Regions from separate parts of the Homo sapiens genome. Here region 2 is linked to region 1. Evidence: fine-mapped expression QTL. A gene starts in region 1. The other region holds a variant in brackets. All regions are shown on one strand. Distances are between the middles of the regions. Region 1 holds the start of STAT2 (signal transducer and activator of transcription 2). Region 2 overlaps TIMELESS (timeless circadian regulator).

What was found.
Region 2: its variant is fine-mapped to the expression of STAT2 in whole blood (TOPMed, PIP 0.97).

The regions. Positions count from the first base shown.
Region 1 is chr12:56,351,560-56,367,886 of GRCh38, reverse strand. It overlaps STAT2 (signal transducer and activator of transcription 2), which reads left to right and starts at 7,780. Exons shown (of 24, transcript NM_005419.4): 1 at 7,780-7,829; 2 at 11,309-11,446; 3 at 11,602-11,755; 4 at 12,084-12,179; 5 at 12,355-12,444; 6 at 12,536-12,611; 7 at 13,024-13,109; 8 at 13,273-13,421. The coding sequence starts at 11,316. APOF (apolipoprotein F) reads left to right here and starts at 5,030. Exons shown (of 2, transcript NM_001638.4): 1 at 5,030-5,157; 2 at 5,698-7,319. The coding sequence starts at 5,142. The coding sequence ends at 6,662. It also overlaps the pseudogene RNU7-40P. RefSeq lists enhancers at 7,298-7,387, 7,458-7,637, 8,713-8,882, 8,714-8,913.
Region 2 is chr12:56,429,624-56,445,950 of GRCh38, reverse strand. It overlaps TIMELESS (timeless circadian regulator), which reads left to right. Exons shown (of 29, transcript NM_003920.5): 2 at 11,720-11,877; 3 at 12,025-12,178; 4 at 12,299-12,413; 5 at 12,508-12,570; 6 at 12,824-12,925; 7 at 13,427-13,582; 8 at 14,347-14,480; 9 at 14,983-15,070; 10 at 15,670-15,846. The coding sequence starts at 11,781. Among named protein-coding and RNA genes, the nearest start is that of TIMELESS, 12 kb to the left of the region's middle. RefSeq lists an enhancer at 2,085-2,718. The variant A/G (reference allele first, on the strand shown) is at 9,048.

The DNA.
Region 1 (16,327 bases):
CCTGGCTGTGTTTTTTATTTTTTGTAAAGATGGGGTTTCACCATGTTGGCCAGGCTGGTCTCGAACTCCTGGTCTCAAGCCCCGCCCCATGTCTTTTTTTTGTTTTTTTGTTGTTGCTGGTTTTTTTTTTTTTTTTTTTTTTTAGATAGACTCTCACTCTGTTGCCAGGCTGGAGTGCAGTGGCGAGATCTCGGCTCACTGCAATCTCTGCCTCCCGGGTTCAAGTGATTCTCCTGCCTCAGCCTCCCGAGTAGCTGGGATTACAGGTGCGCACCACCATGCCTGGCTAATTTTTTGTACTTTTAGTACAGACGGGATTTCACCATGCTGGCCATGGCTAGTCTTGAACTCCTGACCTCGTGATCTGCCCGTCTCAGCCTCCCAAAATGCTAGGATTACACGCGTGAGTCACTGCGCCCAGCCCCCATGTTGTTTTTAAGAGTCTCATGTTCTACCGACTGAGCCAGCCAGAGCTATGTTGTATTTAAATAAATATCGTTCTACATCTTCCTTTCTAGTTTTATGCCATTTATTTTTTATTCTTTCCACATTACACTGGTTAGAACTTCCAGTACAATGAGGAAAAACTGGTAAGAATGGATATTTCTGCTTTGTGATAGATCTTAGGAGACAAGGATTAAATCTTTCACTCCTTCTAGTGTTGCTACACAGAAACTATAGAGTCCTAGGAGGCTGGGTGCAGTGGCTCAGCACTCTGGGAGGCCTAGACAGGAGGATCCCTTGAGCCCAGGAGCTCGAGACCAGCCTGGCCAACATAGTGAGTTCCCTTCTCTACAAGAAAATTTTAAAAATTAGCCAGGTGTGGTGGTACGTGCCTGAAGTCCCAGATATATAGGAGTCCGAGGTGGGAGGATTGCTGGAGCTTGGGAGTTCAAGGCTGCAGTGAGCTGTGATTGTACCAACTGCACTCCAGCCTGGTATACGTGTATGTGTGTGTACGTATATTTTATCCATGTAGGTATATGTATATATATTGTCTTAGGGATTCCCCAGGGGTTTGGGGTCTAGTAATTTCAGACAGTGTTGGACTCCTTTCCACTTAGTTCTTGCTGTTTCTAAGTTGGCACTGTGTCCCTGGAGACTTACTCCTCTGCTTCTGTCTTTGCTCTTAGTTGTCAGGGGCCACTCCTGGGAACTGAAAGAACCGAAAAAAATAGAGGGAGGGACCCTGGACCCTGCCATTGGCCTAGTCCCTTTGGCCATGTGCCTGAGGTGAGTGACATCAGAGGAAACTTTAGGCCATAATGATATGTAGGAACTGGTACCATTTTTAGGAGGCATCAGATGTCTTATTTCCCTAATTTTTGGACTAATGTTACCCCTAAACCCAAGATAAAGCCTAATTCCTGGAGTTTTGGTTAGATTTGGAAAGTTACTGCTCAGCTGATGGACATGTTTTATTTGTGTTTTGCATTGGAATTAGAAAAGTGAAAAATAAACCAGGTGCAGTGGTTCATGCCTCTAATCACAGCACTTTGGGAGGCTGAGGTGGGAGGACTGCTTGAGACCAAGAGTTCAAGACCAGTCTGGGAAACATAGTGAAACCTCATCTCTACAAAAAAAAAAAAAAAAAATTTTAGCTAGGCATGGTGGTGCACACCAGTAGTCACAGCTACTTGAGAAGCTGAGGCAGGAGGATCTTTTGAACCCAGGAGTTAAACGCTGTGGTGAGCCATGATCAGGCCACTGTACTCCAGCCAGGGAGATAGAGCAATACCTGGACTGGACTCTAAAAAAGAAAAAAAAAGTTGCTCTGATTTTGTCTTATTTGTCAATCTGTCCAGTTTCCCTGGACTCCCATCCAGTATATTCTCTTTTTCAGACAAAGTCTCGCTCTGTCACCCAGTCTGGATGGTGCAGTGGTGTAATCATGGCTCACTGCAGCCTTGACCTCCCCAGGTTCAGGTGATCCTCCCACCTCAGCCTCCCCAGTAGCTGGGACTACAGGTGCATGCCACCACTCCTGGCTAATTTTTATAATTTTTGTAGAGACGGGGCTTTCGCCATGTTGCCTAGGCTGGTCTCAAACTTCTGGGCTCAAGCCATCTGCCTGCCTTGGCTTCCCAACCAATATATTCTTTTAATAAGAAAAATGGTGACCAGGCGCTGTGGCTGGCTCAAGCCTGTAATCCCAGCACTTTGGGAGGCCAAGGTGGGCAGATCACCTTAGGTCAGGGGTTCAAGATCAGCCTGGCCAACATGAAGAAACCCCGTCTCTACCAAAAATACAAAATTAGCCGGGAATGGTGGCACACGCCTGTAATCCCAGCTACTTGGGAGGCTGAGGCAGGAGAATCACTTGAACCTGGGAGGCGGAGGTTGCAGTGAGCTGAGATCGCGCCATTGCACTCCAGCCTGGTCAACAAGAGCGAAACTCCGTCTCAGAAAAAAAAAGAAAAGAAAAATGGTTTAGGGGTCCCAGAGATCACCAGCTATTCTGCCTTACCCTTTCTCCCCTCAAGAAGATACGGAGGACCTTTTCCTCAGCTCAAATATAGGTTTAGGGTAAAACCTTAGGATAGAAAAGATATGTCACTGGGTGCCGTGGCTCACGCCTGTAATCCCAACACTTTGGGAGGCCGAGGCAGGCAGATCATTCGAGGTCAGGAGTTTGAGACCAGCCTGACTGACATGGTGAAACTCCATCTCTACTAAAAATACAAAAACATTAGCTAGGCGTGGTGGCGCACACCTGTAGTCCCAGCTACTCGGGAGGCTGAGGCAAGAGAATCTCTTGAACCTGGGAAGTGGAGGTTGCAGTGAGCCAAGATCACGCCATTGCATTCCAGCCTGAGCAACAGAGTGAGACTGTCTCCAGAAAACAAAACAAAACAAAAATTTGCCAGGCATGGTGGTGCGTGCCTGTAATCCCAACTACTAGGGAGACTGAGACACAAGAATCGCTTGAACCCGGGATGTGGAGGTTGCAGTGAGCTGTGATCGTGCCACTGCACTCTACCCTGGGCAACAGAGTGAGACTGTGTCTCCAGAAAAAAAAAGGAAAAGAAAAAGAAAAAGAAAAAAAAAAAAAGATATGGGACAGGACTGCAGGGCCTAAAAGGGGAAAGGTCAGTTTGTCAGTATGGGTCAAAGGTGAGAAGGACAAAGTCTGGGCTGGGAAGAGATGCATAAATATTTGCAAATGTTTTGTCCTTCACTGTTTTGGAAGCCATCAACTTTCTGGTTTCCTTGTGATTCTGGGAAAGGGCAGATTAAAAACAGCAACAACAACAATAATAGTAATTCAGGTCATGAAGATACCAAAGCAAATGAGATGTTTGGACTGTTTTTTTCCTCTGACTTGTTTCTCCTCAAAATAGGAGGATCACCCACATCCTTTAAGAGTGAAGATGAGGTGTGCTCAGGGCAACCGAAGTTTCCAAGAGCTAAGACACTTTCTAGCTCTGGCCAGTCTTGGTGTCTCTTTGTCCTGAGCCTTTCTCCACTTCCCAACCTGAGCACTGCTTCCTTCCAGCAGGGCTGCTCTGCTGTCCCCCCATGGTCCAAGCTGTGCTGCTGCTTTGCTGTGTCCTGCTGTCCCTGGTGTCTGCCTTTCCAAGAAATGCTCAGAATGAGACTCTGACCCTCCAGCCATCTTTAACAGAGACTGGGCATCCATCAAACATGCTCTCCATTATTTGGAGAACATGGAGAGCCAGATTCCTCTCCCAGATCCCAGGATCTGCCAAGATCTCTTACACACAGCCCCCTCCCTAGCCCCTCTGCCTGAGTACCTGTCCAACTTAGCTCTGAGGGTGCCCTTGGAGGAGGTGGGCTGCCCAACTGAGGCCCATGTTCTGCAGTTTCAGATGCGAGGAAAGGATACCACTGAAACCCTCATCCGTGAGAGTCAAAAAGTTCAATGGGGAGGAAGGCAATACCAACATCATTGTGACGAATCTAGTAGTCCCTTAGGGAAGTGTGAATAAACCCAGCACCCAGCTGCCCATCCTGGGAAATGTATGGATGGTGGCAAATATACCCACTGGGGTAGCTGGCCTACCAGGTAGCTCAGATGGTGATTGAGTTTGCTGAGAAACCATCTCCCATGATGCTTGGTGTCACAGTTCAAAGTTTTGGGTGTCCACATCACCAAGAACTGCAGGTATGAGTCTTGGGAGCATATTGAAGAATTAGGCAAAAAGTTGAAGAAGCTCTCAAGATCATTTAAATTGTCCATGGACAGTGACAATATAATCTATCAAATGTTCCACAGCTATTCTGAAGTGCTTTGTGAGGAAAATGATCCAGGAATTGATCCCGGCTCATTTCAGCTATTCAATATCACATAAGTAATGAGTCTCCTTTCCCAGGACTGTATTCAAGGATGGCACACAGTAAGTAGTTAGAAATGTTGGAGACCACTTAGGACAGATGAATGCTCTTTATTTCACCTCTTCCCTTAAACACATATGTGACCAGTGTTAGCCTTGCCCCTCTCCACTTAGTAGGTGTCAGCTCCCCTCCTTTTTTTTTTTTAAGACGGAGTCTCACTCTGTCACCCAGGCTGGAGTGCAGTAGTGCGATCTTGGCTTACTGCAACCTCCACCTCCCGGGTTCAAGCAATTCTCCTGCCTCAGCCTCCTGAGTAGCTGGGACTACAGACGCCCACCACCACGCCTGGGTGTATATATATATATATATATATATATATTTTTTTTTTTTTAGTAGAGACAGGGTTTCACCATATTGGCCAGGCTGGTCTCGAACTCCTGACCTTGTGATCCGCCCGCCTTGGCCTCCCAAAGTGCTGGGATTACAGGCGTGAGCCACCATGCTCAGCCGCTAATTTAATTTTTAAAATGAAGAGAAATGAGAGTATCACAAACATCTCATCTTTCCTAATTCTGAATTTCCCTGGCTCCTATCATGAGCTTAGAGTGGGAATGTGGCAGGGACATACAGGAAATGCCAAAGAACAGGACTGTAGGCATAGAGGTTGAGTGTGTGACAAGGGGCACAAGGTTTGAGCAGCCAGTATAAATGGGCAAATATTTGCAGAGATTACATCCTTCACTGATCATAGGGGAAAGCAAATATCTCCTTTCCTCATGGGACACAGAACTAGGCAGAACAGGATCAGGAAGCGATCAAACCTACCAAGGCAGTCTCACTTCTCAATGACTGGACTGTGTGGTAATTTGGGGTCCCTATATATGGGTGGAAATAAAACAGAAGTCCCTGGTGACCTGTAAATGGGGGAGACCAAGTGGGAGCAACTGGGGTGCATTTCCTATTTCCTAGGCCTTTACCTAAAAAGAACAGAAGCTTGGGGCCAGGCGCGGTGGCTCACATCTGGAAGCCTATCACTTTGGGAGGCGGAGGTGGAAGGATCACTTGAGCCCAAAGTTCAGAACTAGGCTGGGCCAGATGGCAAAACCACGTCTCTACAAAAAATTTAAAAATTAGCTGGGCATGGTGTCACGCACCTGTAGTCCCAGCTGCTTGGGAGGCTGAGGCAGGAGGATCCCTCGAGCCCAGGAATTCAAGGCAGCAGTGATTTGTGATCCCATCACTGCACTCTAGTCTGGGCAACAGAGCAAGACCCTGTCTCTAAAAAGAAAGTACAAAAGCTTGGAAGCAGGTGATGTATGAGGTGTCCCCCTAACTGAGTCTTGGGCTCACCATCGCCCTTAGGGAAATGGTTTGTATGTTTCGGATTTCTCCCCTTTCTAGGGTACTCTGCTCCAGACATGCGTGGCCTCAGACTCATCATGATACCAGTTGAGCTGCTACTTTGCTACCTCCTGCTGCACCCTGTGGATGCCACTTCATATGGAAAGCAGACAAATGTCTTGATGCACTTTCCCTTGTCCTTGGAATCCCAGACACCCTCCTCAGACCCCTTGTCCTGCCAATTTCTGCACCCAAAGTCACTGCCTGGTTTCAGCCACATGGCCCCTCTACCCAAGTTCTTGGTAAGCCTGGCTCTAAGGAATGCCCTGGAGGAAGCTGGTTGTCAGGCTGATGTTTGGGCTCTACAGCTACAGCTCTACCGCCAGGGTGGTGTGAATGCTACACAGGTCCTCATCCAGCATCTTCGAGGGCTCCAGAAAGGCAGAAGCACAGAGAGGAACGTGTCAGTGGAAGCCCTGGCCTCTGCTCTGCAGCTGTTAGCCAGGGAGCAGCAAAGCACAGGAAGGGTCGGGCGCTCCCTCCCGACAGAGGACTGTGAGAATGAGAAGGAGCAAGCTGTGCACAATGTAGTCCAGCTGCTGCCAGGAGTGGGAACCTTCTACAACCTGGGCACAGCTTTGTATTATGCTACTCAAAACTGCCTGGGCAAGGCCAGGGAACGAGGCCGAGATGGGGCCATAGATCTGGGATATGACCTTCTGATGACCATGGCTGGGATGTCAGGGGGGCCTATGGGTCTAGCGATCAGTGCTGCACTTAAACCTGCATTAAGGTCTGGGGTTCAGCAGTTGATCCAGTATTACCAAGATCAGAAAGACGCAAACATCTCTCAGCCGGAGACCACCAAGGAGGGTTTGAGGGCCATCTCAGATGTGAGTGACTTGGAAGAAACAACTACTCTGGCTTCTTTCATATCAGAAGTAGTAAGTTCAGCTCCCTACTGGGGGTGGGCCATAATCAAGAGCTATGACTTAGATCCTGGGGCTGGGAGTCTTGAGATATAAAAGAATGTGGTAACCACAGAATTAATAACTGTACTACCCTGACAAGCTATATACATGTCTTCAAAATTTTAATCTGATTTATCCAGGAGGAAGGCTGTACAGTAAAACGTAAGAACGTAAATGTTTGGGTGTTGAAGTCACAGGGTTTGGTTTCGAATCTAGGCTCCACTTGTTAGAGCCTCGGTGATCACTGAATAGTAACTTCTTTCTTGAACTAAGATCAGTTTTGAAGTTTCTAAAGGAGATAGAATGATTTTAACCTCAATGAGTTGCCCTGTAAATTTAAAATGATACAATGAATCTAAAATGCTTATCACAGTACTTTCAATAAATAGCTATTAGCCAGGTGCGGTGGCTCACGCCTGTAATCCCAGCACTGTGAGAGGCTGAGGCGGGATGATCACCTGAGGTCAGGAGTTCAAGATCAGCCTGGGCAACATGGCGAAACCCCGTCTCTACAATAAATACAAAAAATTATCCTGGCGGAGTTATGCACGCTTGTAGTCCCAACTACCTGGGAGGCTGAGGCGGGAGAATCACCTGAGCCTGGGAGGTCGAGGCTGCAGCGAGCCGAGATCGCGCCGCTGCATTCCAGCCTGGGTGACAGAGCGAGACCATGTCTCAAAAAATAAAAATAAAAAAAAATTGTTTTCATTACCTCAGCCCTCCTCTTCCTATCCCAAGGCGTCGAAATTCCGGTCCCACCCCTTCCCATGGAGCCCTTGGCGTCTCCAGGCTCCTCAAGCTAGTTTCGGTTCCGGGGCTCACGCGCGGGTTCTCGAAAATCAGCTGTTTCAGTCTTGGGCTAGTCCACTAATTGGACTCCTCCCCTCGTAGAAAGTGCCTACTTGAACTTCTCCACCAATCGCTGAAGCTGCAGGTGTGGTTTCGGCTCAGCTTGTCCCGCCCTGCGGAGGGGCGGAGTTGCGGCGGCGCCAGTGAGCTCGCAGTCTGGGAAGGGCTTGACTGAATGGCAGCCAGTGTCGGGGTGGCGGCTGGGAATGGGGGCCGCTCCGGACTTCCGCTGCCAACTACAAGGGGGCGGGTCCGAGGGGGGTTAGCCGAAGTTGTAGGCGGGGCGCGAGGTTCTAGTACCCGAGCTCATACTAGGGACGGGAAGTCGCGACCAGAGCCATTGGAGGGCGCGGGGACTGCAACCCTAATCAGGTACGGGCCCTGAGAGGGTGTGCTGGGGTAGGGGTGGGGGTGAGAGTGAGAGTTCCTCCGAGGGAAGGGCGACTGGCCCCAGGGGTTACCCCCTGGAGAGGGTAGCTTCGGTCCCCAGATTGAAATAGGAGCTGTCGCCTGCTCGGTCCTCGATCTTCTTCTGTCCAGCCTATCTCCCTAACCCTAATGCCCCTCTCCCAAAACTGCCCTGCAGCTTCCGAGACCCGGAATCTGGCATTGTTATGTTGGTTCGGTATCTGACGTTTTTCCCTCTGCTCTGCATTATTTTTTATCTTCACCAAAAAACGATGTTCAAAGATAGATAAATCTAAAAACAAAGATAGATAAATCTATTATCCTTGTTTTGTTAAAAAGTATAAGCTACTGAAAGATGAAACGATTGCCTAAGGTCACACACAAAATTCAGTTCATTTCAGAAAAGCTTCTTGAGTGCAAAATATGTGCCTAAGAATGAGAGATAATGAGAAAAAATTGTTTCAGCCCTTAACCTCAGTGTTTGCAATCCATTTGGGGAGACCAGGTTTTTTGTTTTGTTTTCATATTTGAATCTTTGCTGACTTGCTCCTTTAATATCAGACACTTAAATCCTCAAGAATTGGGACCTCATCATTAATTTTTTTTTGGAGATGGAATCTCACTATGTTGCTCAAGCTTGGTCTCAAACTCCTGGGCTCAAGCCATCCTCTCGTCTTGTGGGCCTCACAAAGTGCTGGGATTACAGGCATGAGCCATCATGCCTGGCCACCTGATCATTTTTTTAACTTTTTTTTGGTATCATAAAAGCAATACAGATACATAGTTTTAAAAATCAAGCACTACTAAAAGAGTTAAAATGAAAATAGCCCCTGCCCAATCCCTCCCTTCCCTTGTTCCTGCTGGAGGTAGAAAGGCAGCTGATGTTATTCATGTTAGTAGAAGACTCTCCCACCCCAAGCATTTCTCTTTATTTTGTAATAAAATCATGTGACCTTTTTAGACCACAAATATGCATGAATTCTGTTCTGTTAGGCTCAGGCTGCAACAAGCATAAGTTTCAGTTTCCTAAATAGACACCAGCTGGCAGTGAGCAGGGAACAGTGGGGAGAAAGATGCATGGGACAGCCTGCTTGGTGACAGGCAAAAACCAATTTGTTGTTCTTTTGAGACAGAGTCTTGCTTTGTCACCCAGGCTGGAGTGTAGTGATGTGATCTCTGCTTACTGCAACCCCTGCCTCCTGGGTACAAGCCATTCTCCTGCCTCAGCCTCTTGAGTAGCTGGGATTACAGGCAACAATTTTAAGTGAAGTTTCAGGATCTCACAAAGTTGATAACCTATAATCATATTCAAGATTCACAGGTCATAAACGTGTCATATTCTTGGGATTGAGCCACCCATTGCACAGCATTTAGATGTCTTCTAGAATGGAGCTCCTCCTTCCTATATGGAGGGCAGTTTATATGGTGTACTTACCTGACCACCAAAAAGATTTGGCTCCTAAAAAAGCTTCAGGTGGCCGGGCATGGTGGTTCACCCCTGTAATCCCAGCACTTTGGGAGGCCAAGGTGGGCAGATCACCTGAGGTCAGAAGTTCCAGACCAGCCTGGACAATATGGTGAAACCCCATCTCTACTAAAAATACAAAAATTAGCTGGGCATGGTAGTGGGCGCCTGTAATCCCAGCTAGTCGGGAGGCTGAGGCAGGAGAATCCCTTCAACTCGGGAGGCAGAGTTTGCAGTGAGCCGAGATCGTGTCACTGCACTCCAGCCTGGGTGACAGAGCAAGACTCCATCTCAAAAAAAGAAAAAAAAAAAAAGAAAAAAAAAAGCTTCAGAGCCAGCAGGGATCATGCTGTAATAAATACTTAACATCAACACTGATCTTTAAATGCTTTAGCACAATCAAATATAAATAACAAACACACACATAAATGCAAAATAAATGAATTAGGGAGATAGATGAAATAAGATTGTGGAAATAGTAATGTTTGTTAAAGCTGGATGGTGATCCTTGTACTATTCACTCTACTCTAGTGTGTATTTGAAAATTACCATTAGGCTGGTTATGGTGGCTCATGCCTGTTAATCCCGGCATTTTGGAAGGCTGAGGCAGGCGGATTACTTGAGCTCAGGAGTTTGAGATCTGCCTGGGCAACATGGCAAAATCCCATCTCTACAAAAAATTAGCTGGCATGATGGCACACTCCTGTAGTCCCAGCTCCTTGAGGGGCTGAGGCAGAGAATGGCTTGAACCTGAGAGGTCAAAGCTGCAGTGAGCCAAGATCATGCCACTGCACTCCAGCCTGGGTGACCAAGTGAGACCCTGTCTCAAAAAAAAAAAAAAAAAAAGAAAGAAAATTCCCATTAAAGCACAAAGGCCCACTTATTGAAGCTATTAAAATACAGGTTGGGGCCGGCTGGGCACAGCGGCTCACGCCTGTAATCCCAGCACTTTGGAAGGCCGAGGTAGGCAGATCACGAGTTCAGGAGATCGAGACCATCCTGGCTAACACGGTGAAACCCCATCTCTACTAAAAATACAAAAAAAAAAATCAGCCGGGCATGGTGGCGGGAGCCTATAGTCCCAGCTACTCGGGAGGCTGAGGCAGGAGAATGGCATGAGCCCGGGAGGCGGAGCTTGCAGTGAGCCAAAATCACACCACTGCACTCCAGCCTGGGCAACAGATCGAGACTCCATCTGAAGAAAAAAAAAATACAGGTTGGGACCACAGTGGCTCATGCCTGTAATCCTAGTACTTTGGGAGTCCGAAGTAGGTGGATCACCTGAGGTCAGGAGTTTGAGACCAGCCTGGCCAACATGGCAAAACCCCATCTCTACTAAAAAATATACAAAAATTAGCTGGGCGTGGTGGTGGGTGCCTGTAATCCCAGCTACTCAGGAGGCTGAGGCAGAAGAATCACTTGAACCAGGGGGATGGTGGTTGCAATGAGCCAAGATCATGCCACTTCACTCCGGCCCAGGCAAAAGAGTGAGAGTCCATCTTAAAAAAAAAAAAAAAAAAAAAAAAAAAATACAGATTAGGCATTCCTAATCTGAAAAATTTGGCTCCAAAATGCTCCAGTGAGCATTTCCTTTGAGTGTCATGTGGGTGCTCAAAAAGTTAGATTTTGGACCATTTCAGATTTCAGAGTTTTGGATTAGGGATGCTCGACTGGTAAGTAATGCAGATATTCCAAAATCTGGACAAATCTGAAATCCAAAATGCTTGGAATAGCAGATACTCAACTGGTAGCACTCCCTGGAAGAATATGCACCAAACTGATAGCAGTGGTTACTTCTGGAGAGGAGGGGAAAGAACCAAGATTAGCAGTAGGATCAACATATATTTTAATGTTTTCTGTATTTTTATTACTTGTATAATTTAAACATTTTAAATTAGTAATAATGAACAATCATGAAACTATGGATGATTTAGTCCAGCAAAATATCCAATTGGGAACCCTCATCCTTCTGACGCAGAGCCCAAATGGCGCAGTGGGAAATGCTGCAGAATCTTGACAGCCCCTTTCAGGATCAGCTGCACCAGCTTTACTCGCACAGCCTCCTGCCTGTGGACATTCGACAGTACTTGGCTGTCTGGATTGAAGACCAGAACTGGTGAGGCCTTCAGGAAGTTGGGGGAATGAAAAAGGTGGTTCCTTACTTCTGGGCCCCCGGGATCCTGGAATCATTAATGGCAGGAAGGGGTTGGAAAGCCTCAGGACTACAGTAACACTGCAGAGACACTAATACTTCTTATTCCTGGTGCCCAGGCAGGAAGCTGCACTTGGGAGTGATGATTCCAAGGCTACCATGCTATTCTTCCACTTCTTGGATCAGCTGAACTATGAGTGTGGCCGTTGCAGCCAGGACCCAGAGTCCTTGTTGCTGCAGCACAATTTGCGGAAATTCTGCCGGGACATTCAGGTACTTGGAACGGTTGGGAGTGATGGGGTAGCACTGGGAGCTGAGCATAGAGGAGTAAGGTTTGGAGAATAGAATAGTACCTGGAGGTGGAAAGGGAGACGGGAACAAATGTGGGGAAAGGAGGACAGAGTCTGGACTTGGGGAATCACTAGCAGAGAGAAGGGTTGCATATACGTGACACTGTTGGGAGGATGCTATGGTGAAAAGACAAAGGGCTAAGAACCCCGAAGGAGGAGGAAATACTGTGGACATTGGTGGGGAGGGTCTAGGGCAATAGGTCATTGAGAGTGGTTGAATTGGATCAATCCTTTCTGTTTACCTATTCTAGCCCTTTTCCCAGGATCCTACCCAGTTGGCTGAGATGATCTTTAACCTCCTTCTGGAAGAAAAAAGAATTTTGATCCAGGCTCAGAGGGCCCAATTGGTGAGGACAATTCAGTGGTAATGTTGGAAACTCCTGAAGTAGAGAGGAACCATGGAAAGGACTCAGGGAGTTGTCTCAGAACAGGATCCCCCCGACATCCTGTGGTATAATTTCAGGCCTGAACTTAAGGCATGAAAGGCCAGAGTTAAAACGTGCTCAGAGCCTCTTTTTTCAGGAACAAGGAGAGCCAGTTCTCGAAACACCTGTGGAGAGCCAGCAACATGAGATTGAATCCCGGATCCTGGATTTAAGGGCTATGATGGAGGTTAGTAGATGTGGTAGGAGTTAGGGTTGACAGCGTTCAGCCTAACACCTCCCTGAGAAGCAGCCTCATCGGGGTCCTCTCCCCTCTGCAGAAGCTGGTAAAATCCATCAGCCAACTGAAAGACCAGCAGGATGTCTTCTGCTTCCGATATAAGATCCAGGCCAAAGGTAGGAAGCACATTGAGGGGCTGGAGAAAGATAAGTGCCTGCTGAGAAGCCGGAGCTGGAAGTGAACAGGAGAAAGCTCCGATGAGCAGTAGTCACTGTCAGACACACCCCACTGACTACAGTCCTGCTGCCGTGCAAAGCTGGAAGTGCTTTGTGGAGGCTGAGCTGGAGGTGCAGCTGAGAGACAGTAAATGTTGAGGAAATGCATGGAAAACTAACAGTGTTTTATTTGAGGGGGTGTCTGGTCCAAGCATGACCATTCAGAATTTGCCTGAGGGTCCCACAGGTGCCTGTGCTTTGCTTGGTTTCCCTTTCTTCCTCCACAAAATTCCTCCTTCCTGACTCTGACTGAGACCCCAGTCAGGAAGGAGAGGAAAGAACCCCTGGACTGACTCCTGTTCCCACCATCCAGGGAAGACACCCTCTCTGGACCCCCATCAGACCAAAGAGCAGAAGATTCTGCAGGAAACTCTCAATGAACTGGACAAAAGGAGAAAGGTGGGAGACAGAGGACAGAACATGTGGGCAACAAGGACCTGGAAAAATGAGGGATGTGGGGACCCTGGTCCTCTAGCGCTGGCTTCTTTGTTTCTTCATCCCCAGTTGGGTGGTGGAGGGTGAAAGGGAGAGATGCTCAACACTCACATTATCTCTTTCCCAGGAGGTGCTGGATGCCTCCAAAGCACTGCTAGGCCGATTAACTACCCTAATCGAGCTACTGCTGCCAAAGTTGGAGGAGTGGAAGGCCCAGCAGCAAAAAGCCTGCATCAGAGCTCCCATTGACCACGGGTTGGAACAGCTGGAGACATGGTGAGAGGTACCACCCCAACCCTCGTCCTCGCCATGCGCTGTGATTTGTAAGTTGCAGTGCCCTGCATATAGCAAGAGATACTGTTCTCTATTTGTCTCTGCTCCCCAGAATGAGCCCTGCTCCCTGCTGACTGCAGCTCTATTCTGCTCCTCATCCTCACCACGCAGGGAGCCCAGAGCCCAGTCTCCTTCAGGGAAAGGAATGAATTAACCCACAATCTGGTTTTTCCTTCTTTTTTAATCACCCAGAAATATATATATATGTATTTTTTTTTTTACTGCAACGAATACAATGACAAGAAAGGAAGGAAGGAAGGAGGAAGAGAAAATTACCTATTACCTAGCTTATTAAACAAAAATGGAATCATATTGTCCATACTATTTTGAAATCCATGGGGTTTTTTTTAAGCTTAACAGTATTTTTTATATATATATATATATATATATATTTTTTTTTTTTTTTTTTTTTTGAGACGGAGTCTCTCTCTGTTGCCCAGGCTGGAGCGCAGTGGCACGATCTCAGCTCACTGCAACTTCCAACTCCCAGGTTCAAGCAATTCTCCTGTCTCAGCCTCCCGAGTTGCTGGGATTACAGGCACACACCACCATGCCTGGCTAGTTTTTTTGTATTTTTAGTAGAGACGATGTTTCTCCATGTTGGCCAGGCTGGTCTCAAACTCCTGACTTCAGGTGATCCACCCAACTTGGGCTCCCAAAGTGCTGGGATTACAGGCGTGAGCCACCATGCCCGGCCAACAGTATATTATATTTATCCATGTTATTTCTTATGTCCACACAACAGTCCCCTATATGGTGGTAACATAATTTAATTAATGAACTCCTATTTTCAGCTATTTAGGTTATTTTCAATTTCTTGTTACCTTTTTCCAGGAAACGCTATATTTTATGGTAATTATATTGTGTTGTAGAAAAATCACTAGTGTGTCCTCCAACATACTTGAAAAATACCTACTGTTTTCAATATTTTCTCATTTAAAAATTTATTATAATTTAGTCTTTTAGAAATATACCAGGCCAGGCATGGCGTCTCATGCCTGTTATCCTAGTACTTTGGAAGGCTGAGGCAGGAGGATCACTTCAGTCTTGGGGTTTGAGACCAGCCCGGGAAACATAACAAGACCCCATCTCTACAAAAAAAAAAAATTTGTTTTTTAATTAGGCATGTCCGGACACAGTGGCTCACACATGTGGCCAGCACTGTGGGAGGCCAAGGTGGGTGGATCACTTGAGGTCAGGAGTTCAAGACCAGCCTGGCCAATGTGGTGAAACCCCATCTCTACTAAAAATACAAAAATTTGCCAGGTGTGGTGGCGCATGCCTGTATTCCCAGCTACTCAGGAGGCTAAGGCAGGAAAATCACTTGAACTCGGGAGGCAGAGGTTGCAGTGAGCTGTGATCATGCCACTGTACTCCAGCCTGGGTGACAGAGCGAGACTCCGTCTCAAAAAAAAAAAAAAAAGATTAGGCATGGTGGCACACGCCTGTAGTCCCTAGCTACTCAGGAGGCTGAGGTGGGAGGATTGCTTGAGCCCAGGTGTTGGAGGCTGCAGTGAGCCATGATTATACCACTGTAGTCCAGCCTGGACAACAGAACGAGACCCTGTCTCTAAAAGTATATATGTACACATACCATAATACCCAGCTACTGAGGAGGCTGAGGCAGAAAGAGTGCTTGAGTCCAGGAGTTTGATGTCAGCCTGAGCAATATAGCAAGACCCTCACCTCTTAAAAAAAAAAAAAGTAGATTAAAAAAATACCACAATTGCTCAGGTAGATTGAAAAACAGGCATATAGTACTTATGGTACAGGACCAGCATGCATGCATGCATGCATTGATTGATTGATTGATTGATTGATTGAGACAGGGTCTCTCTCTGTCTCCCAGGCTGGAGTGCCTGGCCTTAAGTGATCTGCCCACCTTTGCTTCCCAAAGTGCTGAGATTACAGGTGTGAGCCACCATGTCAGCTGGCGAGGCTTTTTAAAAGATAGTTCCAAGTGTTACAGCTCTTTTAGGATTTGTCTAGCAGGCTTTCAGGTTTTTGCCAGAAACCACCCCCACCCCCACCCCCACCAAAAAAAAAAAAAAAAAAAAAAGATAGTTACAAATGTTTCCCAGAATAGTTGTCCCAATCGAATCTATTTTCTCATGTGTAGTGTATGGTTGTTTTCCTGTCACCACATTGCTGATTATTATTATTTTTAATTATAGAGACAGTAAAGTACAGTAGTTAAAAATGTGAGTTGGGGCTGGGTGCAGTGGCTCACACCTGTAATCCCAGCACTTTGGGAGGCCAAGGTGGGCGGATCACCTGAGGTCAGGAGTTCAAGACCAGCTTGGCCAACATGGCAAAACCCCGTCTCTACTAAAAATATATATATATAAGTTAGCCGGGCGTGGTGGCACATACCTGTAATCCCAGCTACTCGGGAGGCCAAGGCAGGAGAATCTCTTGAATCCAGGAGGTGGAGGTTGCAGTGAGCCAAGATCACACCATTGCACTCCAGCCTGGATGACAAGAGAGTGAGACTGTCTAAAAAAAAAAAACAAAGTGTGAGTTGTACAATGAGACTGCCTGGGATCACATACAAGCTTCATCCCTTACTAGTTGTATGACCTTAAGCAAGTCACTTAACCTTTCTGTGCCTCAGTTTTATCATCTGTAATGTGGGGAAAATAATAGTACCTGCCTCAGAGGGTTGTTTTGAGGATTAAATGCATTAATATGTGGAAAGGGCTTAATATAAGTTGTACATAGCATATGAAAACTGTTATGTTAAATCTATTAGCAGTTTTATATGTGAAAATAGCTTTGATTTTCATTTCTTGGATTATGAATCATGTTGAATAATCCTTTATATGCTTCCTGGATTCTTTTTTTTTCTT
Region 2 (16,327 bases), 78 kb before region 1:
CTGGGTGACAAAGTGAGACCCTCTTTCAAAAAAGAAAAAAAGTCTGGAGGCAGAGAAAGAGGATAGGAAGAGGTTGAGTAACCTAAGCAAGAGCTACTCAGGAACTGAACTAAGGCAGTAGCAATTGGGATAGAAGGATAGACAGCAACTGATAGAAGAACTTAAGGAAGTTAAGTGAGATGGAGCTAAGGTGACTCCTAGGTTTCTTTTTTTTTTTTTTGAGACAGAGTTTCGCTCTTGTTGCCCAGGCTGGAGTGCAGTGGTGCGATCTCAGCTCACTGCAACCTCCGCCTCAAGCGATTCTCCTGCCTCAGCCTCCTGAGTAGCTGGGATTACAGGCATGCACCACTACACCCAGCTAATTTTGTATTTTTAGTAGAGACAGGGTTTCTCCATGTTGGTCAGGCTAGTCTTGAACTCCCGACCTCAGGTGATCCACCCGCCTCGGCCTCCCAAAGTGCTGGGATTACAGGCATGAGCCACCACATCCAGCCTCTTTTTTTTTTTTTTTTTTTTTTTTTTTTTTTTGACGTGGAGTTTCGCTCTTGTTTCCCAGGCTGGAGTGCAATGGTGCGATCTCGGCTCACCGCAACCTCCACCTCCTGGGTTCAAACAATTCTGCCTCAGCCTCCCAAGTAGCTGGGATTACAGGCATGCACCACCACACCCAGCTAATTTTGTATTTTTAGTAGAGATGGGGTTTCTCCATGTTGGTCAGGCTGGTCTCAAACTCCCAACCTCAGGTGATCCACCCACCTCAGCCTCCCAAAGTGCTGGGATTACAGGCATGAGCCACTGCGCCTGGCCCTAGGTTTCTTTTAATAAGGTGAAACTCTTAGCCTTCTTCACTGAGGAGATAGTGTCAGTCCTTGAGAGAGCCAAAGTGGAGACAGACTTGGGAAGATGAGTTCAGCTTTAGACCTATTGAGTGTAAGGTATCTTTGAGACATAAAGGTAGAGAATGCTATTCAGTTAGTCAGTTTAACATACGAGATTGTCAACTCAATAGCTCAGAGGGGCCAGAAATACAGATTTGCTGGCTTCTGGCTTGGGTGGTAGTTGAAGTGCATGGGAGAGGGTGAGTTTGCCCAATCAGGCCGCGTACAGTGAGAAGGGAAGAAGGCTAAAGATGCAGGCCTAAGGAAAATCAGCACTTAAGTAGGAGGAGGAACAGCCAATAAGAGATCAAAGGGGAAAGTTTTATTTTATGTTGGATTTTTCCCCCCTTAAGATGAGCTAGGACAGGTGTGGGGGCACATGCCTGTAATCCCAGCACTTTGGGAGGCTGCGGTCGGAGGATAGCTTGAGCCTGGGGGCTTGAGGCTGCAGTGAGCCGAGATCGCACCACTGCACATCACTACACTTTTGAGATACTGCCTCAAAAGAAAAAAACAGATGGAATAGCCTTGAGCAACTCATAATATATGGGGATGGGGCTAGTATAAAGGGAAGGTTGGAAATAAGGAATAACCAACTAAGGGACAGGAAGTGATTAATGAGGATCACAGAGTACTTAGATTAGAAGCAAAGAACTAAGGGTGGGTGTTTGAAATATGTATGTTTTTAGGCTTGGGTGGAGAGAGTTGAGAGAGTTCATGTCTGATAACCTCAATTGTTCCTAACAGGAAGGAAGCAGATAAACCAGGTGGGAGGCAAGGAAGCAGTAGAGTGAAGGGGCTTGAGGATAATGATGAAAGTTAGGAATAGTGGTTCTTTGGGAAGAGACAATGAAGGGGACCAAGAATACAGAAATGAGGCTGGGCACGGTGGCTCATGCCTGTAATCCCAGCATTTTGGGAGGCCGAGGCAGGTGGATCACGAGGTCAGGTGTTCCAGACCAGCCTGGCCAACATGGTGAAACCATGTCTCTACTAAAAATACAAAAATTAGCCAAGCGTGGTGGCGGGCACCTGTAATCCCAGCTACTTGGGAAGCTGAGGCAAGATAATCGCTTGAACCCAGGAGGCGGAGATGCAGTGAGCCGAAATCACGCCACTGCACTCCAGCCTGTATGACAGAGCAAGACTCTGTCTCAAAAAAAAAAAAAAAAAAGAATACCGAAATGATTTGCTGGACCAGGCTGAAGGCCCTGCTCAGGTTGCAGGCTATACATGTTATCGGGGGAACCAGCCCCCAATATTTCAATGTAGGTTCTTTTCTATTTTCCCTAAGTGTCAGCTGGTCTCATAAATAAAGAGAAAGACTACAAAGAGAAGAATTTTACAGCTGGGCCTCTGTGGGTGCCATCACGTATTGGTAGGACCATGATGGCGACTTGAGCCGCAAAACCAGCAAGTTTTTATTAGGGATTTTAGAAGGGGAGGGGGGTACGAATAGGGAGTGGATCACAGAGATCACATGCTTCAAAGGGCAATAAAAGATCACAAGGCAAAAGGGCAGAGCAGGATCACAAGGCAAGGGCAAAATTAGAATTACTGATGAGGGTCCATGTCCCACTGGGCACACATTGTCTTGATAAACATCTTAACAGGAAACAGGGTTTGAGAGCAGAAAACCAGTCTGACTAGAATTCACCAGGCTGGAATTTCCCAATCCTAGTAAGCCTGAGGGCACTGCAGGAGACCAGGGCATATTTCATCCCTTATCTCAACCGCATAAGACAGATAATCCCAGAGCAGTCGTCTATAGGCCTACCCCTGGGAATGCATTCCTTCCCCAGGGTTATCAATTATTAATATTCCTTGCTGGGAAAAGAATTCAGTGATATTTCTCCTACTCACATGTCGTTTATAGGCTCCCTGCAAGAAGAAAACTATGGCTCTATTCTGCCTGACCCCCCAGGCAGTCAGACCTTATGGTATCTTTCCTTGTTCCCTGAAAATCGCTGTTGTTCTGTTCTTTCTCAGGGTGCCCTGATTTCATATTGTTCAAACACACGTTTTACAAACAATTTGTACAGTTAATGCAGTGATCACAGGGTCCTGAGATGACATACATTGTCAGTTTATGAAGATGACGGGATTAAGAGATTAAAGACAGGCATAGGAAATTATAAGAGTATTGATTGGGGAAGTGATAAATGTCCATGAAATCTTCATAATTTATGTTCACAGATTGCAGTAAAGACAGGCGTAATAAATTATGAAAGTATTAATTTGGGGAACTAATAAATGTCCATGAAATCTTCACAATTTATGTTCTTCTGCTGTGGCTTCAGCCGGTCTCTCCATTCGGGGTCCCTGACTTCCCGCAACATCATCTATCTTATATCACTATAGAGGGTCGTTTGGTTTTCTCCAGCACATCTGGGCCTAGATTTGAATTGAAGTCTAGGAAGCAGATGGTTGCATTGATCTGAGGTTATGTATGGTCTTTTGCAGGGTGAGTGCACTGAAAGGAAAAGAGATAGAGGCCACACGGGAAAATGGCCAAACTGATGTATATAGTGATACAGTAGTAGGATATGTGTGACCCTGGTTTGATCATTTTGTTTTCTAGCTCAGAAATCTTCAGTGGCTCCCTGGCTTAGGTTCTAAATCTTTGAACTGATGGACAAAGATGAGGTTTTTCCCATAAAGCTGGTTCCAGCTGCTTTTCCATTGCTTTCCTGTTGGACTCATCTATTCATAATGGCTCCCTCTTTGGTTTTGCACTGGCAGTTCTCTGCTTAAATGCCCATCCTATTCCCAGCTGCCTTAATCCTATGCAGCTTTCAAAGGCCCAGTTCTAATCATGCTTCCTCAGACAAAACCTCCTTGACCACTTTAACCTGAAAAGAGTACTAGTTTTTTAGTTTTTTTCAGTATCACGTATTTAGAGCTTGTACTGCCTTATCTTTTACATTGTTTGTTCTATATTTGTGGATTTTATTTCTGCAACTACATTTCTTTTTTTTTTTTTTTTTTTGAGACGGAGTCTCACTCTGTCGCCCAGGCTGGAGTGCAGTGGCACGATCTCAACTCACTGTAACCTCCACCTCCCTGGTTCAAGTGATTCTCCTGCCTCAGCCTCCCGAGGAGCTGGGATTACAGGCACCCGCCACCACACCTGACTAATTTTTTGTTAGTTTTAGTAGAGACGGGGTTTCATCATGTTGGCCAGACTAGTCATGAACTCCTGACTTTGTGATCCACCCGCCTTGGCTTCCCAAAGTGCTGGGATTACAGGCGTGAGCCACCGCGCCTGGCCTCTGCATCTACATTTCTTAAATTTCTTTAGCGCTACCATTGCACCTGCACGCTATCTTTTGCCAGGAAGGTTCTCCCTAAGCATTTAGTAACTGACTATAGAGTCTGACAGATGGAGAGGAAATTAATATTTGGGGCGGGGGAGGGGTTCTGTTTGTTTTGTTTATTTGTCTTTTGAGACAGGGTCTCACTCTGTTACCCAGGCTGGAGTGCAGTGGCACAATTTCAGCTCGTTGCAACTTCAACCTCCTGGGCTCAAGTGATCCTCCTGCCTTAGCCTCCTGGGTAGCTGGGACTAAAGGTGTACATCAGCATGCCCGGCTGATTTTTGTGTTTTATTTTTTGTGGAGACTGGGCTTCGCTATGTTGCCCAGGCTGGTCTCAAACTCCTGGACTCAAGTGATCCTCCCACCTCAACCTCCCAAAGTATTAGTATTACAGGCGTGAGCCACCATGTCCAGCCAGGGATTCTTACTTTGTGCTCAGCACTGGGTAGAGTGCTTAATATCACTGCTTCTCAAACTGTCTTGGTAAAGGACCAGGTAGATTTTTCCCTCAAGCTGTTGCAGATCAGTAGTGTTCTAAAAGCACTTCTGTAAAATAAAATTACTAGAAAAATAACATTTAAAAAGACATAGAGAATACAGGCTTTTTATTATTATCATCATTAGATTCAACAAACATTGGCTGGGTGCAGTGGCTCATGCCCGTAATCCCAGCACTTTGGGAGGCCGAGGTGGGTGGATCACTTGAGGCCAGGAGTTCAGCAGCCTAGGCAACATGGCGAAACCCCATCTCAACTACAAAACACAAAAAAATTAGCCTGGCATGGTGGCACAGGCCTGTAATCCCAGCTACTTGGGAGGCTGAGGCACGATAATAGTTTGAACCCGGGAGGCAGAGGTTACAGTGAGCCAAGATCACGCCACTGCATTCCAGCCTGGGTGACAGAGGGAGACCCTGTCTCAAAACAAAACTGTAAACTGCCTGTCAAATTGCCCTAAGATGTTCTAAGTGCTAATGCTTTCTTTCTGTACTTACCTTGATGCAGACTGCTAATAGTTTGTGGATTGGCAGTGGTCTGAAGACCAAGGTTTGAGTAGCATTGCTTTACATGATCTCATTTACACTTCCCTAATATCTTGTGAGGGTGGGTATTATTATTATTTCCTCAGTATACTGATAAGGAAAGAGATTTAGTTAAGCCACCTGCTCAAGTTCACCAGTTTAGTACCAGACAGAATTGGAATTCAAGTGCTAGATGCCATTTTGTTCATACTACTGGGTCTCAAAGAGGATCCTTGGAGCAGAGTTGGTTTGGGGCAGGTAGAGTGTTTTGTTTCGTCTTCAAAAAGTAAGTTTATTTGGTCGGGCGCAGTGGCTCATGCCTGGTATCCCAGCACTTTGGGAGGCCCAGGTGGGCAGATCATGAGGTCAGGAGTTTGAGACCAGCCTGGCCAATATGGTGAAACCCCATCTCTACTAAAAATACAAAAATTAGCTGGGCATGGTGGCGCGTGCCTGTAGTCCCAGCTACTTGGGAAGCTGAGGCAGAAGAGTTGCTTGAATCCAGGAGGTGGCGGTTGCAGTGAGCTGAGATCGTGCCACTGCACTCCAGCCTGGGCGACAGAGCAAGACTCTGTCTCAAAAAAAAAAAAAAAAAAAAAAAGGTTAATTTGAATTGCAAATACATTTAATATTTTATCTGTTGTTTTCTTTTGGTTCTTGCATTTTAATGCCTCCAAGTATTGATTTCAGATGCATATTGCTTCATCTGAACTGCTTGATACTTAGTTGAGTAGGAAAAGTAACTAACATCCCTTTTAAATGTCCAGTTCCATTGGCTCTGTGGTGTTTGACAAAGTTCTCACCTGGTCTATGATGAAATGTGAAAATAAAGTCAATGTAATGAATTTTTTCATGAAGTCATATTTATTAAATTTGAAGGACAGTATTTTATCCTGAGATTTTTGTCTGTAGTTTTTTTGGTGTTAAAATGGTAGAAACAGAATGCGTATAGTAATTGTGTGGAGTGTTGTTTATAACGGCTGTTTGAGATATAATTCATATACTGTAAAATTCACCCTTTTAAAGTGTACAATTCAGGCTAGGTGTGGTGGTTCACACCTGTAATCTCAGCACTTTGGGAGGCCAAGGCAGGAGGATTGCTTGAGGCCAGTCAGGAGTTTGAGACCAGTGTGGGCAACATAGGGAGGTACCAGCTCTACACAAATTTAAAAATTAGCCAGATGTGGTATTGAATGCCTGTGGTCCCAGCTGCTTGGGAGGCTGAGGTGGGAGGATTGCTTGGGCCAAGGAGTTGAGGCTATAGCGAGTCATGATTGATCTGTACTCCAACCTGGGCTGGTCAACAGAGTGAGACCCTGTCTCAAAAGAAAAAAAAAAAAAAAGAAAACCCCTGTACAATTCTGTGATTTTTAGTATATTCAGAGAGTTGTACAACCATTTCTGCCCACCTCAGCCTCCTAAAGTGCTGGGATTACAGGCGTGAGCCACTGTGCCCATATCAGCCTATTGCATTTGCCTATTCTGGACATTTCATATAAATTCCATCATACAATATATGACCTTTTGTGTTTGGCTTCTTTTTTTTTTTTTTTTTTTTTTTTTTTTTGAGAAGGAGTTTTCACTCTTGGTGCCCAAGCTGGAGTGCAGTGGCACGATTTGGGCTCACTGCTACCTCCACCTCCAGGGCTCAAGCGATTCTCCTGCCTCAGCCTCCCGAGTAGCTGGGATTACAGGCGCCCGCCACCATGCCCAGCTAATTTTTTTGTATTTTTAGTAGAGACAGGGTTTCACCATGTTGGCCAGGCTGGTCTCAACTCCTGACCTCAGGGTGATCTGCCCACCTTGGCCTCCAAAAGTGCTGGGATTACAGGTGTGAGCCACTGCACCCGGCTGTGTTTGGCTTCTTTCACTGAACATGTTTTCAAGTTTCATCTACTTCATGGCATGTATCAGTCAGTATTCCATTCCTTTTTTTTTTTTTTTTTTTTTTTTTTTTGAGACAGAGCTTTGCTCTGTCATCTAGGCTGGAGTGCGGTGGCGCAATATCAGCCCATTGCAGCCTCCACCTCCCAGGCTCAAGTAATTCTCCCACCTCAGCTTCTCTAGTAGCTAGGACCACAAGCACACACCACCACACTCGGATAATTTCATTTTTTAAATTTTTTGTAGAGACGAGGTCTCACTATATTGCCCAAACTGGTCTTAAACTCCTGGGCTCAAGTGATCCTCCCGCCTTGGCCTCCCAAAGTACTGGGATTTCAGGCGTGAGCCACTGAACCTGGCTGTGCCCTTTTTAAATATAGACTTTCAAATTTGAGTTAGCATAATTAGGAGGCAGGAGGATCACTTGAAGTCAGGAGTTCCAGAGCAGCCTGGGCAACATGGTGAAACCCTGTCTCTACCAGAAATACCAAAAAATTAGCTGGGCAAGCCAGGCACGGTGGCTCACGCCTGTAATCCCTGCACTTTGTGAGGCCAAGACGGGCAGATCACCAGAGGTCGGGAGTTTGTGACCAGCCTGACCAACATGGAGAAACCTCGTTTCTACTAAAAATACAAAATTAGCTGGGTGTTGTGGTGCATGCCTGTAATCCCAGCTACTTGGGACGCTGAGGCAGGAGAATCGCTTGAACCCGGGAGGGAGGCAGAGGTTGCAGTGAGCCAAGATCGTGCCACTGCACCCCAGGCTGGGTGACAGAGCGAAACTCCATCTCAGAAAAAAAAAAAAATGTTTATCAAGCCCAGTATTAACACTCTCGGAGCGAGAGAGCAGACTGACCTCTGCAAAATGAGATCAGCATTAGTTTGGTGTAGTTTGGGTCTTTTTATGTGTTTTTTTGGCTGCCTAATCTCTAGTCAGTGTCTGCCTTTTTGATTGATGGGTGTGTTGCTTAGTGCTTGCCTGCTGCCTCCATCCCATAATTTTAAGTACATGCATGATATGCAGTCCATGTGCATGAGCGTTGATGAGTTGATTATCATACGGGGTCATCATAAGGACACTTTTTCTCTTTGATGCATATGACTTGCCCTGAAGAGCTGCCCCTTGCTGGTTTGGTCTTGATCCTGCGGGCCATGGGGTCCTTGCTTGCTTCTCTTAGCTTACTTTTTGTTTTGGCCTGCTTAACTTCTGCCTTTTATCTTGCTTCTTGCTCACCTACCCCTTCACCTTGCTTCTGCTCTCATGTTCTTACTCATTCTGCCCTTTATCCAACTTTAAATTCCCTTTACTATTATCCTGCCTCATTTTCTGTATTCTGCTTCCTCAGTTACAGTGAGCCGTGATTGTACCACTGCACTCCTGGGTGCCAGCCTGGGTGCCTGAGTGAGACCCTGTCTCAAAAAAAAAAAAGCTATAAAATCATTTTGCAAACTTGAGTGTACTAGGAAAAGGTATTACTATTTTTGGTTTTGTACAAATGATTTCCTTTCTTTTATGAATTATTTTCTTCAGTTATATTTTCTGAAATCAGTTTACTGTTTCAAAGGGTATGACCCAGGATAATCTGTTGATTCAAAATTCGGCAAATATTTATTGCATGCTTGGCTGGGCGCAGTGGCTCAAGCATGTAATCCCAGCACTTTGGGAGGCCGAGGTGTGTGGATCACCTGAGGTCAGGAGTTCAAGACACATCTGGCCAATATGGTAAAACCCCGTCTCTACTAAAAATACAAAGTTAGCCTGGTATGGTGGCGTGCGCCTGTAATTCAAGCTACTTGGGAGGCTGAGGCAAAGAATCACTTAAACCTGGGAGGCACAGGTTGCAGTGAGCCGAGATCACGCCACTACACTCCAGCCTGGGCAACAGAGCGTGAGACTCTGTCTCAAAAAAAAAAAAAAAATTGCATGCTCGCTATATGCCAAGCTCT[A/G]TTCTAGGCACTGGAGAATGCAGCAATGAGCAAAACAAAATGAAGCCCTACAGCATGGAGCTTTCCTTTTGTTGGACTGGTTTATGATTTTTACTATATAAATCAATGATTTCTAAATGCTAGAAGAACACTAATATATGATGACATTTCCATCCGTCTGAAGTGAAATGAGAAAAATAAGGATAATGTATTCTTACTGAATTCTGACCACTGTTCGGTGTTCTAAATTCCTTTCTGAGGAGCCTGGAGAGAGCCATGTCTGCAGCCCATCCATCTTGCTAAACAGGTCACTTGGACCCAGTATGTTATGGCTTGCTCTCATAACTTGACTCTGGCATAGCATCAATCACACGATGGTTAGCAGACTTCCTTAACTAACTTACGCTAATATTAAACATTCCTTTCTACTGACTCCAACTTTTTATTTTTATTTATTTCTATTTATTTTTTGAGATGGAGTCTTGCTCTGTGGCCCAGGCTGGAGTGTGGTGGCGTGATCTCGGCCTACTGCAACCTCTGCCTCCCGGGTTAAAGCGATTCTCCTGCCTCAGCCTCCCAAGTAGCTGGGACTACAGGTACACACCACCACACCCAGCTAATTTTTGTATTTTTAGTAGAGACAGTGTTTCACCATGTTGGTCAGGCTGGTCTTGAACTCCTGACCTAAGGTGATCCACACACCTCGGCCTCCCAAAGTGCTGAGATAACAGGCATGAGTTACTACGCCCAGCCAAGACTTCTTAAATTAGTGTTTTCTTGGACTGCAGTTACTCATTGGCTAAGAATAAGTCTCTTTAAATATTTGTCAGAGTTTGGTTTTTCCATAGACAGTATGGAGTTTTTCATAGTGATTATGGATTTTAAAGGACATAGCTGAGATTATATCATATACTGTATACTTTTTCGGAGTGTTAAACAAGCTGTTTCTTTTTTTTTTTTTTTTTTAAGACGGAGTCTCGCTCTGTCGCCCAGGCTGGAGTGCAGTGGTACAATCTCTGCTCACTGCAAGCTCCACCTCTCGGGTTCACTCCATTCTCCTGCCTCAGCCTCCTGAGTAGCTGGGATTACAGGCGCCCGCCATCGCGCCTGGCTAATTTTTTGTATTTTTGGTAGAGAGGGGGTTTCACCGTGTTAGCCAGGATGGTGTCAATCTCCTGACCTCATGATCCGCCCGCCTCAGCCTCCCAAAGTGCTGGGATTACAGGCATGAGCCACCGTGCCCGGCCAACGCCCAGCTAATGTTTGTATTTTTAGTAGAAGATGGGGTTTCACCATGTTGGCAAAGTTGGTCTCGAACTCCTGACCTTAGGTGATCTGCCTGCCTTGGCCTTCCAAAGTGCTGGGATGCCACCGCACCTGGCCTACAAAAATTTTTTAAAAGGCCAGGCATGATGGCACATGCCCAGAGTCATAGCTACTCAGGAGGCTGAGGCAGGAGGACTGCTTGAGCCCAGGAATTTGAGGTTACAATGAGCTGTGATCATGCCACTGTACTCCAGCCTGGGCAACAGAGTGAAACCCTGTTTCTCTTTTTTTTTTTTTTTTAAAAGAAGATGATTCTTTGGGAGATAGTGATAGGGAATGTACCAGTTTCTATTCACTCCATTTCCTCACCTGTTCTGTTAGATGCTGATTTCTACTGAAATTACCAAGGTTTAAGAGTAACTTTGGAGAGGAGAGTGAAGGACCTTTCTCTACACATTCGCAGTGTCTCAGAAGCCTCAGGGCTCCTGAGATGTATTAGATCCTTGGTGGAATCACTGTATGGCCAGAGCTCGGTTTTTTTAATTCCTGTGGTACATCAGAGCTGTGTCTGCCTGGAAGAGCCACAGAAAGTGGAGGGTGACAGGGTTGAGCAATTTATTTTTTCCAGAGACTCTGTAGACCAGGCTGGAGTGTAGTGGTGCAATCACAGCTCACTGCAACCTCAAACACCTAGGCGCAAGTAGTCCTCTCATCTCAGCCGGCCTCCCGAGTAGGTAGGAGTGCAGGTGTGTGCCACAACGGTTGGCTTTTTGTACAGATGGGGTCTCACAATGTTGCCCAGGCTAATCTTGAACACTGGGGCAAATGATCATCATGTCTTGGCCTCCTAAAATGCTGAGATTATAGGCATGAGCCACTGTGCCCAGCCAGGGTCTAACAATTTTATTTATTTATTTATTTTGAGACAGAGTCTCGCTCTGTTGCCCAGGCCAGAGTGTGGCGGCATGATCTTGGCTCACCACAACCTCTGCCTCCTGGGTTCAAGCCACTCTCCTGCCTCAGCCTTCCGAGTAGCTGGGATTATAGGCATGCGCCACCACGCCCGGCTAATTTTGTATTTTTAGTAGGGACAGGGTTTCTCCATGTTGGTCAGGCTGGTCTCGAACTCCCAACCTCAGGTGATCTGCCTGCCTTGGCCTCCCAAAGTGCTGGGATTACAGACGTGAGCCACCGCGCCTGGCCAGGGTAGGTGCTTAATTCATAGGCTGGAGCCTCTTTGGTTTTGATCAGGTAGAAGCCATTATTTAAAACTTTCTCTGGGGCTGAGAGCAGAACTTTTGGTTGTGACAAAAGTCAAACATTTGAGGATCTTGTTCAGAATATTCTGAGCATTAGGGCCTCGTCCTGTTCCTATCTTCTTTTCATGGAGAGGAACTTACATTTTTTATCTTTCTCTATTTCTCCAGGCCTCATCATTTCTGTCTCCTGTTTCTCCACTTCCTTCTCTGTTGGTTGGTCCACTGATGTATGGACTTGCACATGATGAACTGTGAACTTCTAGCCACATGTAGTGCCCTTGGGTACTTGGAGGGAGACACTTACCATAAGGAACCAGATTGCTTAGGTGAGTACCTTTTTGATGAAACAGGAAAAAAATTGGCTTGAATTAAGGAGGTCTGTTGAATTCCTCAAACCATGGGTGTGAAAAGATGTGGGTCTGGATGGAGCTTCTTCCAAGGTTCCACATGCATGTTTTGTTCTGTCTCTGAAGAGAGCGTGAAGGATCTGATCCGCTATTTGAGGCATGAGGATGAGACACGAGATGTGCGGCAGCAGCTGGGGGCAGCCCAGATCCTACAGAGCGACCTTCTGCCCATCCTCACCCAGCACCACCAGGACAAGCCTCTCTTTGATGCTGTTATCAGGTTGCCTCCCTAGCTTTTAAACTTTTGCCACCTGCCAGGCTTTGGTGTTTGAGCTGATAGGTTTGGCGTTTGAGCTGGTAAAGAAACTTAACAACTTCTCCCTCCTTCATTGTCTCCCAGACTGATGGTGAACTTGACACAACCAGCCTTGCTCTGTTTTGGCAATCTGCCTAAGGAGCCCAGCTTTCGGCACCATTTTTTGCAGGTGCTAACTTATTTGCAGGCCTACAAAGAGGTGAGGATTTCCTTTGGAGTCCCTGGGGTGGAATATGGGGCAGTGGTGAAGAAGTGGATGACTGCTACTTAAGATCAGGTTCCCTATTTCACAGGCCTTTGCCAGTGAGAAGGCTTTTGGAGTCCTCAGTGAAACCTTGTATGAGCTGCTGCAGCTGGTGAGTGAGTCTTCACCTTACAGGATACCATGGGACAGCATTTTGCACCTTCTCCGGGCAGAGGAGGAGATGCTGAGATATGGTCCCAGTCCTTGGGGATGTGGTAGTCCGATCCATAGTCTCTGGCTGCCTCAGTACTGTTTGAACTCTTTCTTTTTAATCCTGCTTCTCTTCTATGCCTGGGTCTTCCAGCCAGAGTACATACTGCCTGCCTTCCACAGGGAGTCTCTTCCTCTTACTCTCTTCTGGTTAGGGCTGGGAGGAACGGCAGGAGGAAGACAACTTGCTGATTGAACGGATCCTACTGCTGGTCAGAAATATTCTCCATGTCCCAGCTGACCTTGATCAGGAGAAGGTGAGGGTCTTGGGTGTTCTGTGTTCTTGTGCATGGTTAGGTTGAGCTGCCTTTTTTTTTTTTTTTTTTTTTGAGACGGAGTCTCTCTCTGTCGCCAGGCTGGAGTGCAGTGGTGCGATCTCAGCTCACTGCAAGCTCTGTCTCCTGGGTTCACGCCATTCTCCTGCCTCAGCCTCTGCCTCCTGAGTAGCTGGGACTACAGGTGCCCGCCACCATGCCTGGCTAATTTTTTTTTTTGTATTTTTAGTAGAGACAGGGTTTCACCATGTTAGCTAAGATGGCCTCGATCTCCTGACCTTGTGATCCACCCACTTTGGCCTCCCAAAGTGCTGGGATTACAGGCGTGAGCCACCGCGCCCGGCCAAGCTGCCCTTTTTGGGCTATTCTGTCCTCTGACAAGTCTGGGAGAGGAGGCTTGGTCAAAGAATGAGTTGGAGAGCTTCAAGGCAGGGCAGTGGGATTGAATGAGCTTCCTTTCTACCCTCACCACTCACTGCTCAGAAGATTGATGATGACGCCAGTGCCCATGACCAGCTCCTCTGGGCGATTCACCTCAGCGGCCTGGATGACCTGCTCCTCTTTCTGGCCAGCTCGTCTGCTGAGGAGCAATGGAGCCTACATGTGCTAGAGATTGTCTCCCTTATGTTTCGTGACCAGGTGAGACCCTGGCCTATTGCCCGAGTCCCCTCCGCCCATGTACTTTTCTGCTGTACAGCCAGAATTGCTCTTGTGATAATGGCTGCATTATCTGGGGAAGGCAGGCGACAGCAGGAGTAGCCATGTCTTGAGTTCAGTAGTACCCCCTTATTCATGGTTTTCTTTCCTTGATTTCAGTTACTCACAGTCAACCATGGTCTGAAAATATTAAGTGGAAAATTTCAGAAATAAACATTTTAGAAGTTTTAAACTTGTACATTGTTCTGAGTAGTGTGATGAAATCTTTTGTCCCTGTTTGTCCTAAACAAGATGTGAATCATCCCTCTGCCCAGCATATCCACAGTGTATACCCGCCTGTTAGTCATGTACTAGCCATCTTAGTTATCAAATTGAAAAAACATAATAGAATATGTGTATGTGCGTATATATATATGTATACATGTTCTGTTTTCTGATAACTATATATATAGCACATATATACATTCTATAAAACATAGAACGTACATGTTCTATGTATATGTGTATACACATACAAATATATATATGTATATATGAATATATACATATATATATTTCAGTACTGTCTGCAGTTTCAGGCATCCAGTGGGTGTCTTAGAACATTTCCCCCTCAGATAAGGGAGAACGACAGCACAATGCCCCATTAATGGGGTTCTATTTTGTTCACTCTTTGCATCCCCAGTAGGCGTGAACTCAGGATAAGGAATGACTGTCCTCCTGATTCTTCCCTCTTTGTTCCAATCTAGAACCCCGAGCAGCTGGCGGGAGTAGGGCAGGGACGCTTAGCTCAGGAGCGGAGTGCAGATTTTGCAGAACTGGAGGTGTTGCGCCAGCGAGAGATGGCAGAAAAGAAGACTCGAGCCCTCCAGCGAGGCAACAGGTGAGTGACAGAGAGGCAGGTTCTTTTTCCTACATCATGGAATGCTGAGGGCATAGAAGGCAAATTCTAAGGTGGGGTGATTGAACAACATTTTAGTGTTTTTTTTTTTTTTTTTTGAGACAGAATTTTGCTCTTGTCGCCCAGGCTGGAGTGCACTGGCACGATCTCTGCTCACTGCAACCTCTGTCTCCTGGGTTCAAGCGATTCTCCTGCCTCAGCCTCCCCAGTAGCTGGGACTACAGGCGCATGCCACCATGCCAGGCTAATTTTTGTATTTTTAGTAGAGACAGGGTTTCACCATGTTGGCCAGGCTGGTCTCAAACTCCCGACCTCAGGTGATCCGCCTGCCTCAGCCTCCCAAAGTGCTGGGATTATAGGCGTGAGCCACCGTGCCCGACCAACATTTTGTAGTTTTAACTTGCTCCAATGTGCCGATGATAGAGAATGGAGATAAAGTTTCCAGAGAACTGAAAAATCACCTTGGACCTTTTTGTTTCTGCAGGCATTCTCGATTTGGGGGCTCCTATATTGTCCAGGGGTTGAAATCCATTGGGGAGAGGGACCTCATCTTTCACAAAGGCCTTCACAACGTGAGTATTCTTACATCTGGAGTGGGAACATAGTGGAGTTGCATAGCTTAAGCAGGGTAATCATCTTAAGAGTTCTTGGCTGTGCCTGGTGGCTCACACTTGTGGTCCCAGCACTTTGGGAGGCTGAGGCAGGAGGATTGCTTGAGCCCAGAAGTTCAAGATCAGACTGGGCAACATGGCAAGACCCTGTCTCTAAAAAAAAAATTAAATTAAAGGTTGGGTACAATGGCTCATGCCTGTAATCTTAACACTTTGAGAAGCTAAGGAAGGAGAATTGCTTGAGCCCAGGAGTTCGAGACCAGCCTGGGCAACATGGCAAAACCCTGTCCCTACAACAAGTGAAAAATACTAACTGAGCATGGTGGCACCCGCCTGTGGTCCTGACTACTCGGGAGGCTGAGGTGGGAGGATTCCTTGAGCCCAGGAGTTCAAGGCTCCAGTGTGCTATGATTGCATCATTACACTCCAGCCTGGGTGACAGAGCAAGTTCTTGTCTCAAAAGAAAAACAAAAATTAGTTTCTTCTGAGAAAATTGACGAGAGCTGCAAGGGGAAAGTGGTATTTAGGAGTAATTCTAATCCCCCAACCGACACACCCAGCTACGAAACTACAGTTCAGATTTGGGAAAGCAGCCGAAAAAGGTGCCTAAACGTCGCCAGGCCGCCCGAGAGCTGTCCATTCAGCGCCGTTCTGCCCTCAATGTGAGGCTCTTCCTCAGAGACTTCTGCTCTGAGTTCCTGGAGAACTGTTACAACCGGCTCATGGGATCAGTAAAGGTGAGAACCTGTGAAGGATATGGAGATAATCAGGAATGGAATAGACAGGTGATGATGCAGCTGTTGGTGGGTAAGAAGTGGGGAGGAGCTCGGGGAGGCTGCCCCTGGAATGTGGACTCGTAGGTGGGAAGGATATACAGTTAGGATGTCCCTGAGAGATAGTGAAAATGCCAGGAACGAGTGGGCTCCTGGCATGACAAAAGAGGCTCTGGAAAAATTGCCTCAGAGGGAGAGGAAAGGGAGAACAGGAGAGAGTTGGAAATTGTGGATCCTAGAGTATTATAGCGGTGTCCCGGCGTGGTGGCTCACACCTGTAATCCCAGCGCTTTGAGAGGCTGAGGCAGTGGATCACTTGAGGTCAGGAGTTCAAGACCAACCTGGCCAATATGGTGAAACCGTATCTCTACTAAAAAAAAAAATACAAAAAAAAAAAAAAATTAGCCGGCATGGTGGTGTGCATTTGTAGTCCCAGTTACTCAGG